Linked DNA regions of Homo sapiens: region 2 is linked to region 1. Evidence: fine-mapped expression QTL. A gene starts in region 1. The other region holds a variant in brackets. All regions are shown on one strand. Distances are from middle to middle.

What was found. PIP is the estimated chance that this variant, and not a neighbour inherited with it, causes the effect.
Region 2: its variant is fine-mapped to the expression of PISD in testis (GTEx, PIP 0.97).

The regions. Positions count from the first base shown.
Region 1 is chr22:31,657,914-31,667,826 of GRCh38, forward strand. It overlaps PISD (phosphatidylserine decarboxylase), which reads right to left and starts at 4,302. Exons shown (of 8, transcript NM_001326411.2): 1 at 4,231-4,302. The coding sequence starts at 4,295. RefSeq lists enhancers at 2,139-3,033, 3,034-3,927, 3,223-3,362, 3,336-4,535, 3,753-3,802 and 2 more.
Region 2 is chr22:31,622,337-31,632,249 of GRCh38, forward strand. All of the region lies in intron 3 of PISD (phosphatidylserine decarboxylase), which reads right to left. Among named protein-coding and RNA genes, the nearest start is that of MIR7109, 5.8 kb to the left of the region's middle. RefSeq lists enhancers at 1,043-5,500, 2,137-2,690, 3,243-3,796, 4,350-4,902, 8,027-8,321 and 2 more and a silencer at 8,249-8,668. The variant G/A (reference allele first, on the strand shown) is at 4,157.

The sequences.
Region 1 (9,913 bases):
CATGAGTTCAACCGTTTTAATTTACAGCTCCCACAAATAAGTGAGAACATGCAAAGTTTGTCTTTCTGTTGAGCACTAACTTCTTAATTATCTTGCTTTCTTTTTCTTCATGGCATTTCTTATTACACAAAATGAATGGATTCTGCATGTATTCAGTTATTTGTTTACTGTATGTATACCTCGATGAACACGGGGTTTATCTGTGTTCTCACTGGCCTTCAATCTCAATAGTGACAGTATGCCCCAGAAAGATGAATGGATGGGTTCAAACAGATGTCTCTTCTACATGCATTCTACATCGCATCCTTCAAGTAGGCAATTAAAGCCCACAATTGAGCACTCCAGTCTGCCTGTGCAACTCAAATCTCAGCGCTGCCACTTCTTAGCAGCTGTGTGACCTTAGGAAATTTCTTAACTAATCTTAAGCCTCAGTTTCTCCACCTGCAAAAACAAAACTCACCTCATTAGAAGACAATCATGCAAAACCTTAGCTCAGGGCCTGGCACCTAGTTAGACTGTTATTATTAAGAGTTGATATTCAGCTGACATACACTGAGATGGTCATATCAATCATCTATGACCAGCATTCACTCTCACTAGTCTGTCTCCATGGCATCCTGGTTATAAGTTTGTTTGTTTGTTTGTTTGTTTTTTGAGACAGGGTCTCACTCTGTCACCCAGGCTGGAATGCAGTGGTGAAATCACAGCTCACTGCAGCCTCGACCTCCTGGGCACAAGTGAACCTCCCACCTTAGCTTCCCAAGTAGCTGGGACCACAGATGTGCACCCAGCCATTTTTTGCGGAGAGGAGGTCTCACTATGTTGCTCAGGTTGGTCTCGAACTCTTGGGCTCAAGCAATTCTCCTGCCTCAGCCTCCCAAAGTGTTGAGATTACAGACATAAGCCACCACACCTGGCCAGTTGCACTATTTTTTCTTTTTCTTTTTTTTTTTTTTTTGAGACAGGGTCTCACTCTGTTGCCCAGGCTGGAGTGCAGTGGCATGATCTTGGCTCACTGCAGCCTCAACCTCCTGGGCTCAGGCAATCCTCCTACCTCAGCCTCCCAGGTGGCTGGGACTACATGTATGCACCACTATGACCAGCTAATTTTTGTGTTTTTTGTACAGATGGGTTTTTGCCATGTTGCCCAGGCTGGTCTTGAACTCCTGAGCTCATGCAATCCACCCGCCTTAGCCTCCCAAAATGCTGGGATTACAGGCATGAGACACCACGCCCAGGCCTAAGACATTTTTAACATCACCCCTAGTAGTAACATTTTGCCTATAGTCCTTATGTCTCCCTTGCTTTCTAAAGCTGTGAAAGTTCTCCTAAAACAGAACGGACAGACCTCTTGAAGGCTTTATCCCGTATTCCACCATGTATTACAAGTATATAGTAAAGTTCCTTGAAGACAAGGCCTATTTCAAATGTTTTTAATTTCTTCATTTGCTCCCCTTCCCTTCTCTCTTCTCCCTTCTCTATGGTCCGTTGACAGTGTGGTTTGCAGTGGTAGGGATGCCATAAATATTTCTGATGGAAGTCATGCACGAGAAGCTACTTCCTAGGTACTATTGTCCGTACTTGCCTGAACCTAAGAATCACCTGTAAAAACTACAGTTGCCAGAGCCCCAACTTATATCTACTGAATCTGAAATTGGCAGTAGGATGGGGGCATATCTGGAATCTTTTTTTTTTTGAGACGGAGTCTTGCTCTGTTGCCGAAGCTGGAGTCCAGTGGCGTGATCTCGGCTCACTGCAACTTCCGCCTCCCGGGTTCAGGAGATTCTCCTGCCTCAACCTCCTGAGTAGTTGGGACTACAGACACACGCCACCACACCCGGCTAATTTTTGTTAGAGACGGGGTTTCAGCATGTTGGCCAGGCTGGTCTCGATCTCCTGACCTCATGATCCACCCACCTTGGCCTCCCAAAGTGCTGGGATTACAGGCATGCGCCACCGTGCCCGGCTTTGTTTTTTTTAATCAGCCAGCCTCCCAAACTACAGCAGGCTCAGAGAGACTCCCAAGGAATCTCTATTTCTAACAAGCATCCCAGCCCATTCAGCCCATTCTTTTATCAAATGAGTTTAGGAAACATGGCCCTAAATTATCACCCAAGATGTTATCTATCACCTGTCACACATCACCCAGTTATTGAAAAACTTACCTGAAATATAAGGTTTTCATTTACATGTCTCACAAATAGGCACTGGTTTACTAAAAACCCACAGAAATGTTATCTTTTTGGTTTGTGTATTAATATCATTTCTATCTTGATATAGAATACCTTTGAAAATTAAGGTTTCTTATTGTACCCAAATCTTCATCTCTCTCACCCACTGCATCTAAGTCTAGCCTTATCTATCTACACTGGTACTAAAACATAGCTTTTTTTCTTTCCCTTTTAATGATGGTGACTGAGGTACAGCCTCCTCTCATCATTTAAAAAAATTATTTTAGGTGGACTGCGATGGCTCACTTCTGTAATGCCAGCACTTAGAGAGGTGAAAGTGGGTGGATCACTTGAGCCCAGGAGTTCAACACCAGCCTGGGCAACATGGTGAAACCCTGTCTCCACCCCCACCCCCAAAAAAAATGCAGCTGGGCGGGGTGGCGTGCACCTGTGGTCCTAGCTACTCAGGAGGCTGAGGTGGAAGAACTGCTTGAGACCAGGAGGTGGAGGCTGCAGTGAGCCATCATCACACCACTGCACTCCCTCTTGGGCAACAGAGTGAGGCTCTGACTTCCAAAACAAATAACAACAACAAAAAACAATTTTTTAAGAGTCTCATTTTAGTCCTTTCAATTCGTGACACACTTTATTTATTTTTAATTTTTTTGAGACAGAGTCTCACTCTGTCGCCCAGGCTGGACTCCAGCGGCGCAGTCTTGGCTTATTGCAACCTCCGCCTCCCAGGTTCAAGCAATTCTCCTGCCTCAGCCTCCCAAGTAGCTGGGATTACAGGTGCCTGCCACCATGCCCGGCTAATTTTTGTATTTTTTAGTAGAGACAGGGTTTCACCACATTGGCCAGGCTGGTCTCGAACTCCTGACCTCAAGTGATCCACCCACCTTGGCCTACCAAAGTGCTGAGGTTACAGGCGTGAGCCACCGCGCCCAGCCTGTGACACACTTTAAATGAATTCAGGGTTGACTCATACACAGCACGCCTGGTAATAACATTGAAAACAAAGTCTCCTGCCCAAATTCTAACAGTTACCACCACAATGCAGAGCCCTCTCCTGAGAGATAATCATTTCTGTACAGTTAATGATGAAAGAGTGACGCTTTCATAACAAGACCAATGATGGTTTCTGTTCCCTCTCAGTCCAAATCCAGTGTCCGTCTCCTCCCAAAACAATAGGTTATCCTCTGATCAACGCTGACAAAATGAACCCTGTAGGAAACACACAAGTATGGCGCATCTCTCAAATCTTAGCTCTTTGAAATGACACCAGGCAGCCGACTCTGAATCACAGCTACATTTTAATCCATTTTCCGACACTCCAAATGCTCTAAGCTATTTTCTGTATAACCACTGCCCTCACGGCGGGCAGCCTGAGAGAAAGATCGTCGCGTGAGGGGGTACCTTGATGGGGGTCCGGGCTCTGCTACAAACTGGCTAGGTGAACTTGAGCAAATCCCTCCCTCTCTCGGAGCCTCAATCTCATTAACTCCAAAGAGAGACAGCTGGACTCAGAAGACCCCTCAAGTCTCCCACATTTCTAAGAATCTAACAGCTGGGGGTCACAAGGGTAACCAAGACTCTAGCCCCATAACATATTGTTTTGAGATTACCTAACCTAACCCTCTAGCTTCAAAGACTAAGATCCAGAAATGAAAGTTGCCTGACACTCAATCTAGTGTCCTTCCCACAGGACATCATTCCTTCTACGAAAACGAACACACGAGAAAATGGCATCTGAACATCTGAAAGCCCTGCCTCGACTCAAGAGACGGGCAGGTAGCCTATTTCATCTGATTTTTGTCCCTCGTGAACTTCCACCTAGCTGGAAAGGGCAAAGCGCGAGCTTCTAGGCCACACCCTAAGTAAATCCGGACCGCCCTACGCAGGAGCAGTCGCACCTGCTCCTAAGCTCGAGGTGAAGGTGGCTCCGTCTCCACCCGAGCTCGCCTCAGAGCGAGCCCGCGACACAGAAACATCTCTCTTCAGACCCCAGCTTGGTCCAGGTTGCCCCACGCCCCAAGGTAGTCTCTCCGCGCTGCTATACCTGCTCCGCCACGGCGCGACCCCGTGCAGTAATCCCAGACATCGGTGCCCCACGGACGTCGCCATCTTGTCTGCTCCTTCTCAGCGTGCCACGCCCCCTTCACACGCTGGGCGCACGCTTAAGGCGTCACGAGTCTCGAGTTCAGTGGGCCAATGAGAAAAGCGCGGGTTGGGGGCGGAGCCGACTAAGCTCCGCCCTGTGGCTACTCCCCACCTAACCCGCTTGGCACCTGCGGAGGTAGGGGAACTAGTGGAGCTGTAGGTTTCGCTAAACCTGGGCTTGGTCGCAGCACTGCCACTCCTCCTCCTTCCCTCTGGGTGCCTTTCCTCATGTACCTGGAAAATCTGAGTCATCCAAGATCCAAGAATGTCGTTTCAAGTGATCGAACTTGCTCATTTTACGGATGGGGAAACTGGGCATCCATGACTCAGCTCTCGTTTTTTAAGCGCCGGAGTGTGTTGTGAGCACTTTGCAAGCATGGTGTCATATCATTCTTATCTCCTACCGCTGTGCTGCCAGGGAGACCGGGGGCAAACGGTCTTGGATCACCTAGAAATGCAACCAGTCGTTAAATTCGGTGCCTGGTGCTTGCTCTTGAAAAGGTTCCTATCTTCAATTGTAAGAGGAAAACGAGTTTTCAATCATGTCTGCTACTTTTTACTGAGCACTGACTAGAGACTCGCAGCTAGGCCCGAGACATTATCCCCATTTTAAAGATGAGGTACCTGAGGCTCAGGAAGGTTAAGCAACATCTTCAAGGGTACATAAAGGGCATATGCCCAAAGACTATAAAATAGTGAAGCCAGAATTTGAACATACGTCTCTGACTCCAAAAACCATGTCCTAAACATCTTCTTCTTTTTTTTTTTTTTTTGAGACAGAGTCTCTCATTGTCGCCCAGGCTGGAGTGCAGTGGCGCGATCTCGATTCACTGCAAGCTCCGCCTCCCGGGTTGACGCCATTCTCCTGCCTCAGCCTCCCGAGTAGCTGGGACTACAGGCGCCCGCCACAACGCCCGGCTAATTTTTTTATATATATTTTTCGTAGAGACGGGGTTTCACCATGTTAGCCAGGATGGTCTCGATCTCCTGACCTCGTGATCCGCCCGCCTCGGCTTCTCAAAATGCTGGGATTACAAGCGTGAGCCACCGCACCTGGCCTAAACATTCTTCCTTTTAAGCCCTTTGTCAGAATCTGGCAGAATTTGGGTCCAACAACTGAAGGAATGCAGCCCTACTTTTTCATCTGCTAAGCTGATAATCACAGTTGCCTTCACCAGGCATTTGACAGGAGGAGGAATATGCTCCCTGGTCCCTGCAGGTATTTCTGTGTAGTTGGCTTAAGTTCAACTAGGGCATACTCAGCTCCTACAGAGAGCTTAAAAGGCACCAGGTTTGGTATTGGGGGGAAGAAACCTCCCTTTGTCATGGTTTTCAAAAGTCGGAAAAGAAAAAAACAAATGTATAGAATTGGTTTTGGCCGGGCGCAGTGGCTCACGCCTGCAATCCCCACTCACTGGGAGGCTGAGGTGGGAGGATAGCTTGAGCCAAGGAGTTGAGACCAGCCTGGGCCGGGCGCGGTGGCTCACGCCTGTAATCTCAGCACTTTGGGAGGCCGAGGTGGGCGGATCACGAGGTCAAGAGATTGAGACCATCCTGGCTAACACGATGAAACCCCATCTCTACTAAAAATACAAAAAAAATTAGCCGGGCGTGGTGGCGGGCGCCTGTAGTCCCAGCTACTCTGGAGGCTGAGGCAGGAGGATGGCGTGAACCCGGGAGGCGGACTTGCAGCGAGCCGAGATCGCGCCATTGCACTCCAGCCTGGGTGACAGAGTGAGACTCCGTCTCAAAAAAAAAAAAAAAAAAAAAAAGGAAGTAAAAAAGAGACCAGCCTGGACAACATAGTGAGACTCCATCTCTTTTTTTTTTTTTTTAAGAGGCTGGGCACCGTGGCTCACCCTATGATCCCAGCACTTTGGGAGGCCAAGGCGGGCGGATCACCTGAGGTCAGGAGTTCGAGACCAGCCTGGCCAACATGGTGAAACCCCATCTCTATTAAAAATACAAAAATTAGCTGGGCATAGTGGCGCCTGCCTGTAATCCCAGCTACTCCAGAGGCTGAGGTACGAGAATTGCTTGAACCCGGGAGGGGGAGGTTGCAGTGAGCTGAGATAATGCCATTGCACTCCAGCCTGGGAGACAGAGTGAGACACCATTTAAAAAAAAAATACATATTGGTTTAATTGGTTTTACTATCCAATTGAGAGTAGTAAACCAGCAGGGAATGGGGGGAAATTATTTCCAAATGAAGTGCATTGGGAAAACTGAATATCCATATACAAAAAGTAAAGTGCAGCCTTACACCATATACAAAAATTCATTCAAAATGGATCAGAGATGTAAACTGAAGAGCTAAAACTATAATACTCTTAGACGAAAACATAGGGGAAATCTTCATGACGTTGGATTTAGCAATGATTTCTTGTATATGACGTTAAAAGCACAGGCAACAACAACAAAAACAACAAAAAGATATACTTCGAAATTAAAACTTTTGTGCATCAAAGAACACTATCAAGAGAGTGAAAAGACGCTGGGCGCGGTGTCTCACGCCTGTAACCCCAGCACTTTGGGAGGCCAAGGCGGGCAGATCACCTGAGATCAGGAGTTGGAGACTAGCCTGGCCAACGTGGTGAAACCCTGTCTGTAGTAAAAATACAAAAATTAGCCGCATGTGGTGGCGCAAGCCTGTAATCCCATCTACTCGGGAGGCTGAGGCAAGAGAATCACTTGAATATGGGAGGTGGAGGTTGTGGTGAGCCGAGATCGTACCATTGCACTCCAGCCTGGGCAACAAGAGTGAAACTCTGCCTTAAAAAAAAGAGAGAGAGAGAGAAAAGGCAACCCACAGAATGAAAGAAAATGTTTGCAAATCATGTATTATCTGATAAGGATATTTGCTCATTACTGTCATGTAGATGGGTGGGGAAGAACCTATTTTTCCAAGCTTACAGGAAAATAAATAAATAAATGGCTCACTGAATGCTTTTAGAATAAAAGTCTCCAACTTTATTTTTTGAGACAGAGCCTCACTCTGTTGCCCAGGTTGGAGTGCAGAGATGCGATCTCGGCTCACTGCAGCCTCCACCTCCCGGGTTCAAGCGATTCTCCTGCCTCAGCCTTCCGAGTAGCTGGGACTACAGGCGTGCCACACACCCAGCTAATTTTCGAATTTTTAGTAGAAACGGGTTTTCATCATGTTAGCCGGACTGGTCTCAAATTGCTGACCTCAAGTCTGCCCGCCTCGGCCTCCCAAAGTGCCAGGATTACAGGCGTGAGCCACCGCGCCGGGCCTGACAGTCTCAAACTTTAAAGCACGCTTCCTGCCCACCAAGGCTTGCGCTCGCTGTGCCTCCTTCAGTAGGAAACAGCATTAACTTCCGTAAGATCCTGTCTTTTGAGACCCCGTCTCAAAAAAAAACAACAACAAACCGACTTAAGCACTCGAATCTTCGGCAGCTTATCTATACATTTGGATATCACTTAACCTCATGGAATTGTGAGGACAAAATAATGCAGCGTAAGTTCAAGGCACCTGGTAGGTGCGAATTACTCAACAACTGGGGGCATTAATTTCTGAGATTTCTCTGTGGCCGCTAGGGGGCAGAATTAGCCTAGCATTTAAGAACGAGCTTGCTTGGCTGGGCGCGGTGGCTCACGCCTGTAATCCCAGCACTTTGGGAGGCGGAGACGTGCGCATCACGAGGGCAGGAGATCGAGACCATCCTGGCTAACACGGTGAAACCCCGTCTCTACTAAAAATACAAAAAAATTAGCCGGACGTGGTGGCGGGCGTCTGTAGTCCCAGCTACTCTGGAGGCTGAGGCAGGAGAATGGCGTAAACCCGGAAGGCAGAGCTTGCAGTGAGCTGAGATAGCGCCACTGCACTCCAGCCTGGGCGACAGAGCGAGACTCCGTCTCAAGAAAAAAAAAAAAAACGAGCTTGCCTCAATTTTGTTTTCAAAGGATTTTTGCAGTGTGGATGGTAGTGGCAGAGCTTCGAGGCTTTCGTGAGCCCCAAGCACTTTTGCCTCAGTGGACTGACCCTTTTCTCCATAAAAAATTAAGAATTTTATTTTACAACCGTATTGGTATAAAGACTATTGTCTTTATATTAACACATTTATATTTATAAATCCAAGCTGAATTCATTATTATTATATTCTTTTCCTTTTTTTCCTTTGAGACAGAGTTTCACTCTGTGGCCCAGGCTGGAGTGCAGTGGCCCGCGATATCGGCTCACTGCAATCTCCGCCTACCGGGTTCAAACGATTCTCTTGCCTCAGCCTCTCCAGTGCCTTCAATTACAAGCACTGGCCACCACGCCTGGCTAAATTTTGTATTTTTGTTTAGAGAGACAGGGTTTCGTCATGTTGGCCAGGCTGATCCCAAATTCGGGGGCTCAAGTGATCCTCCTGCCTCGGCCTCCCGAAGTGTTGGGATTACAGGCATGAGCCATCGCACCCAGCCTCATTTTTTAATTTTAATATTAAAAATTTTGTTGTGGGTCCTTAGCACTTTTTTTCTTTTTCTTTTTCTTTTTTTTTTTTTTTTTTTTTGAGACAGGATATTGCTCTGACACCCAGGCTAGAGTGCAGTGGCACAATCATGGCTCACTGCAACCTGGACCTCCCAGGCTCAAGCAATCCTCCCACCTCAGCCTCCCGAGTAGCTGGGATTACGGGTGCACACCACCACACTCAGCTTATTTTGTATTTTTTATAGAGATGAGGGTCTCACTATGTTACCCAGGCTGGTCTCCAACTCTTAGGCTCAAGTAATCCTCTTACCTCGACCTCCCAAAAAGTTGGGATTACAAGTGTGAGCCATGGCTCCCAGCCAGCACTTTTCCTATTGTCTTAGTCCATTTCTTAATCTGTTAAAATTGGGAAACATTGGTAACTACCTGATAGGCACAACAAGGTTTTATTTTGAGATGATAAAATTTGTCCTGAATTAGACAGAAATGGTACACCACGTTGTGAATGTACTAAATGTCACTGAATTGTCCACTTTAAAATGGTTGATTTTAGGCTGGGCACAGTGGCTCACACCTGTAATCCCAACACTTTGGAAGGCCAAGGTGGGTGGATCACCTGAGGTCAGGAGTTCAAGACCAGCCAGGCCAACATGGTGAAACCCTGTCTCTACTTTTTAGTAGAGACAAAATTAGCTGGTCGGGCTGGGCTCGGTGGCTCACACCTGTAATCCCAGCATTTTGAGAGGCCAAGGAGGGCGGATCATGAGGTCAGGAGTTCGAGATTGCCTGGCCAATATGGTAAAACCCTGTCTCTAGTAAAAATACAAAAATTAGCTGGGTGTGGTGGTGCATGCCTGTACTCCCAGCTACTCAGGAGGCTGAGGCAAGAGAATCGCTTGAACCTGGGAGGCGGAGGTTGCAGTGAGCCGAGTAACTGTAATATCAGCTACTCAAGAGGCTGAGGCAAGAGAATCGCTTGAACCTGGGAGGCAGAGGTTGCAGTGAGCCGAGTAACTGTAATACCAGTTACTCAGGTGGCTGAGGCCGTAGAATCACTTGAACCCAGAAGGCGGAGGTTGCAGTGAGCTGAGATTGCGCCACTGCTCTCCAGCCTGGGTGACAGAGCAAGACTCCATCTCCA
Region 2 (9,913 bases), 36 kb before region 1:
TGCATGGAACAAGTCTACAGCCCAAAGTGTGTCCCTCTGTCTTAACAGGAAGAAGGAGGATACCCTGAGCACCAACAGGGATTTTCAGATGCAGGTCTGCGATGTCACTGTCACCTGGGCCTGAGCTGCAGACACAGGGTCTGCAGCCCCCACAGGTCCAGCCAGCACTCTTGAGGGCCTGGATGCAGCCAGTCTGAGAAGCCCAGCCCTGCTGAGCCCCACCTTGGCCCCACGGCAGGACTTGTGTTCAACGTTCTACTGTGACTGAGCCAGGCCATAAAGCCATCTGCACCTGGGGTTCCTCCCAGGAGGCAAAGAGAAGTCATCCCCTCAGGCCCCTCTGTTCTCTCTTCCTTCAGGGAAGCCTGGAGCACCTAAGACAGACGATGGCCTGGGGACAAGCACTGGGTCCCACTAGATGGTCCCAGAGCTCTCCGGCAGGGCCAGGTACCCAGGAAGGGGCAGCCTCTTAAACTTCAGGTGCTGCTGCCACTGTAGAAGCTGCCTGTAATTGGTGGCTGCTGCTTCTCTAAACACAACCAAGACACCAACTCCCCAAGGTGTAAAACTGATTTCATTCCAACTTTCAACACCTCTCCAAGGTAAGGTAAGCTCCCAGAGAGCTGCTCTTATCCCTTCCAGCTGATGCCCAGTCACACAGAAGGGCTATGTGAGCCCAGGCCCTTCCCAGGCACAGGTGGGAGCCTGGGCTAATGTCCAGGGTGCCTCAGTGCCCCTGAGCTCTGATGACACCCATGTGACTGTCAAAGGCCCAGGAACAGGGTTTCCTCCTTGGGGTCAACCTGCCTGGGAAGCCAAGGGCAAGAGCAAGCCCTCTAGGGACCAGGAGAGGACAAGCCAGTTCCCTTGCCCATTCCTGGGGCATGCCTCTGGGTTCCTTAAGGGTGTCCTCACCCTAAGGGACCCAAACAGGATCCATCCATCCTGAACCACCCCTTTGGCATCCCGGAATTAATTTGGCTTCTGTTCAAAATCACCTATAAGCTCTTTTTTGCTTGAACACAGAAAAATCAGAGACAGACACCATTTTCTGAATCCCCAGACTGGGTTCCTTCCAGAACCAGAGCCCCAAATGGCAGACATGAGGCAGGCTAGGGGAGTGGGCAGGGCACGACATGCCCTCGCAGTCACCCGCGGCCCAGGTAGTGGCCTTCTCAAAAGCTGCCTTGGCCTTGCCCACCAATGAACCTTCCGACCCGGACCCCCTGAAGATGTAGCGGTGACCTCTGCTTCTGACAGCTCGCCACCACCTCAGTCTCTCCTGCACCCCAACCTCAGGCCTGCCCGGAAGGGAGGTCCGAGCCACAGGGGCCTGTGCACACTTACCCTGCTTACGGGCCTCCATCCCACCCGGCTGAGCGGTCTGAGGGCGCCGAAGGGCAGGAGGTAGTAGAGGACGGTCAAGGGCCAGGAGCGCAGTTTCAGAGCGGGTCTGGACATGCAGCTCAGCTGCCCCAGCCTCCGCCTCAGGGCCAGCTGGGGGAAGTGCAACCTGCAGGGCACAGGTCCATGCACAGCCAGGTCAGTGGCCAGGCTCTGGGCAGGACCCAGGAGGCTGCCACCTGCACCCAGGGCAGGATTCCTCCTGTCTACCCACCCTTGGCAAGCTGCCTCTCCATGGGGGTGATGGAGCCCAGCAAGCACTGGCTGTGCCCCCTCGTCCCAACCCCATTCTGATTCAGGGGCTTGGCTGCCTCTGGCTAGCGGACTCATTTCCCAGGCTCTCCCACCCGCCAGCCAGCTGGGGAGGACTGGGAATGTGGGGGCAGCCGCAAGAGGAGAGTCAGGCCCAGCTGCGGGGCACCTCTCAGCTGCAGCAGCTCCCAGCAAGGGCCTCCAGGCCCAAGCACCTGGGCCCAGGAAGGGGAGAGCAGGGTGTAGGGCCTGCCTCACATCCCTCAGCCTCCGCAGCCCAGGAGAGTGGGCCCCAGGGGCCAGCTCTGCCACACAGGCACTGGCACGGCAGCACATAGCGCTGAGGAGCTACGACCCAGCCAGCTGGGTAACCATTTGCTGAGTCTTCCGCTACCATCCTTTGCAGGATCTGGGATATCCTTTTCATGGTTCCAGGCCCCCCCTTTCCTCATCTGCTAAATTACGGGGCCAAGGCCAGACAAGATCTCAAAGGGAGCATTTACACTCCGCCTACCACCACCACACAGCTACGGCTCCATCCATCTGCATGGTCTTTCTATAACAGGCCAGGTTCTGAAAACCCATCCACAGGTTTGTGAACAAAACCTCCCCACCACAAGCTCTCAAGCCACCTGTCTGCTCTGCTGGGGCTGCACAGACAGACACACACACACACACACACACACACCCATCCCAAGCCCCTCCTTTCAGCAAAGGTGGACACACACACACACACACACACACACACACACACACACACACACGAGACCCAAGCCCCTCCTTTCTGCATCCAGCCTCTCTGTGATCCGGCCTCTCCCCACCCTCCCAGCACAAATGCAGGGCACTCAGCAGGGGCTCAGCTTCACCAGAGCCGCAGAGGCTGGACGGGCCTTTCCACCACAACCCTGGCCTCCTGCGCCTAAACAAGGCCCACCCCACCCTGTCTGTGCCTAGGCCTAGCAAATGCTCCTGAGGCCCAGGGTAGCCAGCAGGAGACCACACTGCCATCCACTCAGAACGTCCCCAGGTCTCAGTTTCCTCATCTGCAAAGTAACTGCATTTAGCTAATCTACGGCTGCCATCTGGGACTGTGCTCTCAAGAGAAGCTGAGTCCTCTCTCCCAGTTGCTGAGCAAACCAAGGAACAAAGCAGCATCTCAGCTGATAGCAGCAGAGCAGACGGCAGGCGAACCAGTGGCGAACCCCGCTCAGGCTCAGGCTCAGAGCTGGCTGCATCCACGCAGCTCCCGGGTGCCTACTTTCTCTCCCATCGCACCCCGGTGTATTTTTAAAAGGTCCAGGAAGGTGGCAGGGGCCAAGCAAAGACAAATCACTGCTCCCCTCTGGCTTTGCCACCTGCCCCACTCACTGCAGAAGAGCAGGGACCAACTGGGAAGAGCTACACCCCTCCCATGGGCAGGAAGGGGAATGGGGAAGCCTCTCTCCTAGGTGGGGTGCAGAGGCAAGGGTCTGGGCTGCGAGCAGGGGGCCTGGGAGCACCAGGGTAGGGAAGATCGCAGGCATGAGGTCTGAGGCTCGCTGGCAGCCTCCCCCTGCTGGGCCCTCCTCATGGTTGGAACCAAAGATACCTGAAGCGGGCTCTCCGACTCAGGGTGCTCAGGCCCCCCAGGCCAGGCTCCTCCAGCCTCGGGGGCTGACCACCAGTCCCCTTGCCGCCACCTCTACTGCGAGGCCGCTGGATGTGAACTCTGACCTTCCGGAGGTCGTGGCGGGGAACCGTGGGGTTAGGGCGCGGTGGGCAGCATCTCACCATTTCGCCGCGCGGAGCTCTGGTCCTTGCCGCGCCTCTGACTGACACATCATGGGCCGGCGCAGGGAGGGCGGGGCGAGGCTCACTCGATCACTCCCTTTGTTTTCCTCTTTCCTCCCCTTCCCCCGAGCCAGCAGATCTCCTGTGCTGTCACTGCTCCAGGGCCTCTGCCTCTGCGAGGCTGGTTGGTGGCGCCGCTTCCTGGGTTTGGTTCAGTCTCGGTGGCTCACAGGGTGCAGAATAGAGGGTCAGGGCTATTGCAGACAGACAGGCACTGGTCACACACCTGCTCAGGTCACCTGCTCAGGGCTTGCAGTCCAGTGCAAAAGCCCCTGCACTAAAGCCCACTGTCCCCAGTCCTGGCCACCTGCTCTGTCCCTGCTACCCAGGGCTGAGCCAGCCTGCACTGCTCATCCTCTTCCTCAGCTGGCCTGGGGAGGCAGTAGGGGGCAAGGCCCTAGGGCTGCCCGGTCCAGTAAGCCATGACAGGGAGGGGACCAGCCACTGCTGCCAGGGCTTTCAGGCCCCACTTGGCTCCAAACGCACAAAGTGGGAACTTGAGCCCCGTGCTCCAGGCCCAGGCCCAGCACCGCGTCAGCCGGTCTGCAGTTTGGCCCCTCCCTTGCCAGGACCTGACCCATTTTCAATTCAGGTTACAAAGTAGCATCTGAGGAATGAGATGAGCGGGAAGCCACGAGAGGTGCCCTGGTGAGAACCTGGCATCTTACCT[G/A]CTCTGGCTCTCTCCTCACCCCTCCTGGCCTTGACCCCCCACCAACACACACACAAAATACCCAGCTCCCTGCTCCAGGCCTCCTCAGAAGCTGTGCATGTGGGGAAAACCAGCCTGGGGCTGGGAACAGGCCAGGACTGCAGCACAAACCAGTTCCACTCCCCTTTTTCCATCGTTGCTTCAGAAAAGCACTTTGGCCAGGGCCCCAGCCTGGCTATCTGGGAGGACACACCCGGCCCCTACAAAGCCTCTCCACCTTGGCCTGCACAGATAGCGGAAGGAAGAGCAAACATGCTGAAGCTGTGCTATCTCAGCCCAGGCAATCAAGGCCCTCCAGGATATGGGCTGACAGGGAGCCCACCCCTCCAGTCCTTCACCCCCAGCCACTGCCCAGGAAGGGGCAGGCACCTGTCACCATCCTTAGATGATGAAATGTGGCCCCAAGAGCTGCCATCTAAAGCAAAGAATAGGCCAGGCATGGCCAGCCCGCCATGAGGCCTAACTCAGACATCGCTGTGGTCGCGCGTGGTTGAACATCTGACGCCCTGGCAAACCCTCCTCAGCCACACAGGTGAAGATTCCGCCCGGGAACCTGCCTGCAAGAATCACCGAAGCCCCGGGTATGAGATTCAGTGGCCTCTTGGAGCCAGGACAATAAGGTGACTAAGGTCAGACACAAGCGTGGATTTCTCCCCCGATCCAGGCTGGGGCTGGTCCAGGCCCCTCTCCTAAATGAGTGACGGGGACAGCTCACTGCAGATGGGTCAGGCAGGAGGGCGCCTACCCACCAGCAAACAGATACACACCAGCATCCTCCCTTGGGAAGGTGCCGGCACCAGGAGATTGGCACAGGCACAAGAGGCCCATTGCATCTCAAGGCCGAGGCCCAGGCCCATAGACAGCCCCAGTGTCCAGGCCTCCAGGGCCATGTCACTCCAACCACTCCGCCAACATACTGAGCAAACGCCCCACCCTCCCTGGCCCACCAGGCTCCATGCTGGCCTCCTGCCATCTGCCCAGGAAACAGGGGTGATAGCAGTCAGGGGTGAGCCTGGTGCCTGGTTCCAAAGGGGAAGCTCTTTCCCTGGTCTATAGAGTGCAGGCTTGGAACTGAGCTCACAGCCAGGATTCAGAGGGAGGCAAGCGTGGCCTTGAGGGGAGGCAGAGAGGAGGGGCCTTGGGGAGCCCCAGCCTCCTGCCAGTTTTCCTCACTGACCTACCATGTGGGACAGTGACGACCACAGCCCTGAATGTATTAGAAAGACATGAACCCAGATAAACCCAGCTCGGCCAAAAACCTTGGGTTCTCAAAGCAGGTTCCCCTGTGAGCCTTGGCATTTCATTCTCCCATGGTGCTGTGAGGGGCTGGGTCTGGCCTCCGGTCTCAGAGGGGGCCCTACTGAGGAATCAAGGCACATGAGGCCAGGGGCCAGGTCAGATGCCCATCAGGGAAAGGTGAGCCCTGGAGAGACTAAGAACCATCCTGAGAGGCCAGGCTGGGGCACCGCACCTGCCAGTGAGCCCAGTGAGGGCAGGGCGTCCTTGCCCATTTAGATCCTTGTCTTTATCACTGTTCTGCCTCTTCTAAAACAAGCGCCGAGACCAGGGTGTCAGTGCCTCCATATCACCAGCTGTGGGCCCCAGAAGATCGCCAGGGAGGAAAATGAATCCAGCTTTGCCCCAGGACACAGGCTGAGCACCGTCTGTCCCTCTCAGAGCTGCAGGATGGAGAGAAGGGGCGCCTAGAGGTTGCTGCCTTCTTGCTTCCCAAGGCCAAGCCACTTCCTTGGCCAGCAGTGTTTCTGGCCTCCCTATTTCAAATCCTGGCTTGCCCTCTGCCTATGACAGCCCTGGAAGCCCAAGCCAAAGATTTCATCCTCTCTGGCTGTCTTGAGGTGACACGAGGTGGGAGCCTCAGGCCCTGGATGAGGAGCTTGCAAGAAGGGTATCCAGAATGGAGGAAGCACTGACACCTTCCCTCCCTTCTAAGCCTCAAAGACATTCTGTGGAGAGGAGTTTAGGGTTGTGACCAATAGGACTTTAATGTCACTACATGGCCTAAGGGCCAGTCACCTGCAACATGAGAACTCAGAGGGCTTTGTGGCTGATGACAACCTGGTCACTGCAATCCTGGCTGCCTTCCTCTACCTCTGCCCTGAGAGCAGGGAAAGGCATTGGCAAGTCACAGGTAGTCTCTAAGTCTTGGTTTGTACATCTGGAAAATGGGAAAGGAAATTCCTCCTGGCCACCCCCTTGAGGCTCAGAGCACAGCTGCAACCATGGCCCAGAACAACTGCTCAGAAACCCCACTTCCACCTAGGAGCGCGACGCAGCCTCAGACCTGGCTTCCAACACCTCACCTCTCTTTCCAAAAAGTCAACCTCACACTCCGGTGGGGGCAGGGGTTTCCACCACAGGAAAGATGAAATAAGAGGGGCTTAGGTGGCAGTTCTAAAACAGGAACCCAAACTTGCGCGGAGTGACCGGCCCTGTGAATAGGAAACAATGGCTGATAGGACCGTATAGGGGGTAGGGGAACACCTTTGTCAGGACATGCTGTTTTGGGGATCCATACCAGAGCAGTAAGGCAGTGTCCCCACCCGTCCCTCACCAACCAGGGTAAAGACCACAACACCTGCCCCCCCAGTGGAATGGAACATTCCAACTGAAGTCGATGAATGACCCCAGGCCAGGCAGCAGTTACTACAGGTTGGGTTGGGGCCTGCAAGATTGTTGTGCGTGAGGGGTAGGTGCATGTAGGTGGAAGTGTGTGTGCATGGAGGATACGTGTGCAGGTGCAAGGGTATGTGCATGGAGGGGTGCGTGTATAGGTGCGAGGATGTGTGGGGTGTGTAGGTGTGAGGGTGTGTGTAGGGGGTGTGTAGGTGTGAGTGTGTTATGCGTATAGGTGGTGTGTGCGTAGGTGTGAGGTTATGTGCCTGGAGGGGGTGTGCACAGGTGCAAGGTGTGTGCATGTAGGAGGCATGTGCGTAGGTGTGAGGGTGGGCGCATATAGGGGTGTGTATGTAGGTGCGAGGGTGTGTGTAGGTGAGGGGGTGTGTGCCTGTAGGGGGCGCGTGCGTGTATGGGTGTGTAGGTGCAAGGGGTGTGTGTAGGTGAGGGGGTGTGTGTAGGTAGGGGGTGTGTGCATGAGGGTGTGTGTAGGTGCAGGGGTGTGTGTGTGTAGGGGTATGCGTGTATACACTTACAGTCCTGCTCCTAGTGGATTCTGGTTCAAGCCTTAGCAAGGCGGAGCAGGCAGTGAGGGATATGGCACTGTCACCTGCAGTCTGCAGCCCGCAGCCAGCTCTGCCGGAGTATATGTAGCTTTGCAGCTTGTGTGTTCAGCCAAGGACCCTGAGAACTGGCTCCTGCTGTCTGATGGGAAGCGCCTGGAACGCCAGGACCACCCCTCTTGAAGCCTCAGCAGAAACTTCCAGGGCCCCAAATCCTGTGTCCAGTGGCCTGACTGCGGGCCATGCACTTCCCCCGGGGGCGAGGGTGGGGGCAAGGGGCTGACTTTCTCCCCAGCTCAGCTGAGGCCTGGCCACCATGCAGCGGCGTGCGTCTAGTGGGGCGACAACCCTGCCTTCCCTGCATTCCTGAGCTAGAAGCAGGCAAACTTCCCAAGTAGGAGACGGGGAAAATGGTCCTCCCTGGGCGACATGGACCAGAGTCAGTGGCAGGCAGCCCAGGAGGCCCTGGGAAGAGGGCAGGCAGGACTCGCAGGGGTCTATCCTAGCCGCCCAAAGACAGGGAACCTCCTCTCAGACAACTCTGGGTGCTGAGGGGAACCGGCTCTGGGCAAAGGCAGTAAGCCGGCCACCCGCTCCCTGGCCCTCGGGCGCCGCCCTCTTCCCCAGGCGGCCTGCCCCCAGGCCCTCCGGCAGCACCAAGGAGACGGAGCTCTCAGCCCGGGCCCCGCCAATGCCAGCCGGCACCCCCTCACTTCCTGCAGCCGCCTCACTGCAGGCACCCCCTCACTTCCCGCGGCCGCCTCACTTCCCGTACGCTCTTCACTTCCCGTACCCGCGCCCGGCAGGAGATAAGATGTGGAGGAAGTGAGCTCACGCAGCCCGGGCCGTGCCCACGTGGGGACGGAAAAAAAGCCCACGACTCGCTCAACCTTGTCCGCGGGGCTCCTCAGGCCGGGGCCGCGTCGTCACAGCTGGGAGAGCCCACCTGCGACCGAAGGCCCTAGAAGGGCACCCCCACCCGGCACTGGCCCTCTGAGCGGGCAGGGTGGGGCGCCTCCCTGAGAAGTCACCTGGGGCTCCCGGCAGGGCCGGGGCGCCGGCTCCGCTCACTCACCCGCAGGTGGCTCCAGCTTCCGGGCTCCGACTCCCTAGGGGCGCTCCCGGAGCCGGGAAGCCTTGGGGCGAGTGGGCGGGGCTCGGGCTCCAGCCACTCAGACTACCAGGGGCGGGGGCAGGAGGCCGACCCCAGCCACCCTTAAAGCTGCCGCCCCCTCTGAGCCCCAGTCCTGCTGGGCCGTCCGCCCAACCCGAGGGCCCCTTTAAGAGGAAGGGCCAAGGCCAGGGAGAAGGGGAAGGGCAGCAGACACCAGCTCTGCTTGGTCACTGTCACGGGAGGACCCCACTCAACCAGCAAGGTGGGCCCGGCTGCTCCCAAGGGATGCCTCCTGTCTGTCCTCAGTCTGTCCGCTGGTCTGTGAGCCGCCTGTCTGCAGCCCGTGGCTGGCCTCCCAAAGCAGCTGCCTCCCCTCCACCACCCGCGACCCAACACTAGGCAGACTCAGGACCCCACGTGCTGCTGACCTCACTGAGGACCAGCTTCTTCACTGGACTGAACAGAAAGCCACCCCTGCTAGCCCTAGGAAGCTCCAGAGAATGCGAAATCCTTGATCCTTCCCGCATCCCATCTTGAAGCTACAAGGCTGCTCCCACCCCAACCTTCTGCCCTCCAGGCACGCAAAACCCTGACAAACAGAATGCCCTGACTCCAAAACTGATGTAGACCAGCGAACAAGGGCAGCCAGAAACAAGGTCCGACCGCCCCAGCCTAGAGCACACAGGCCTCCCTGCTTCACTACTAGGATGCAGAGCCCATGGGATGGATGATGCATGCTGTCTTCCCACCCCGCTAGATCGGAGGGCCCTAGTCTGCGGCTTGGCAGTCCACCCCGTACCCACATGGTGCCAGGCATCCGACAAGCACTCAGCCCACATGGGATCAGACCAATCAGCTTAATGCTTTTAGGGGAGGGGAAGGGTCTGAGAGGGATCACCATTCAACCAAAGAAAAGGTGTGGCATTAAGTAGCCTTGTTCACATCTGTGGGAGCAACTGAGCACGCCCATTCCCTATTCAATGGTGAGTTGGCCCTAGAAGTCTCAGTCTCCTCATTCTGAGCCACTGAACAGGATACAATTCCAGCGGCTTCTCACCACTGAGATCTTTGTTTCTAAAGCAACTAAGGCATGAAGGCTCATGCCTGTGATCCTAGCACTTTGGGAGGCCAAGGTGGGAGGATCACTTAAGCTCAGGAGTTTGAGACCAGCCTGGACAACATAGTGAGACCTCTTTTTTTAAACCAAAAAGAAAGAAAGAATTAAGGTTTGGAACAGGAGGAGAGGGTCTGTAGGGCTTGCGGAGAAATGGTGTGGGGGCCACGCCTGGAATAGGACATAAGGGTGTACAGTCACAGCCCCATACACCTGTCGTCCTTACCTGGATCCAGCCCAAGCAAGTGCCACATGACAAGCCACAGCCCTGGGATGCGGCAGGGGGAAGAAGA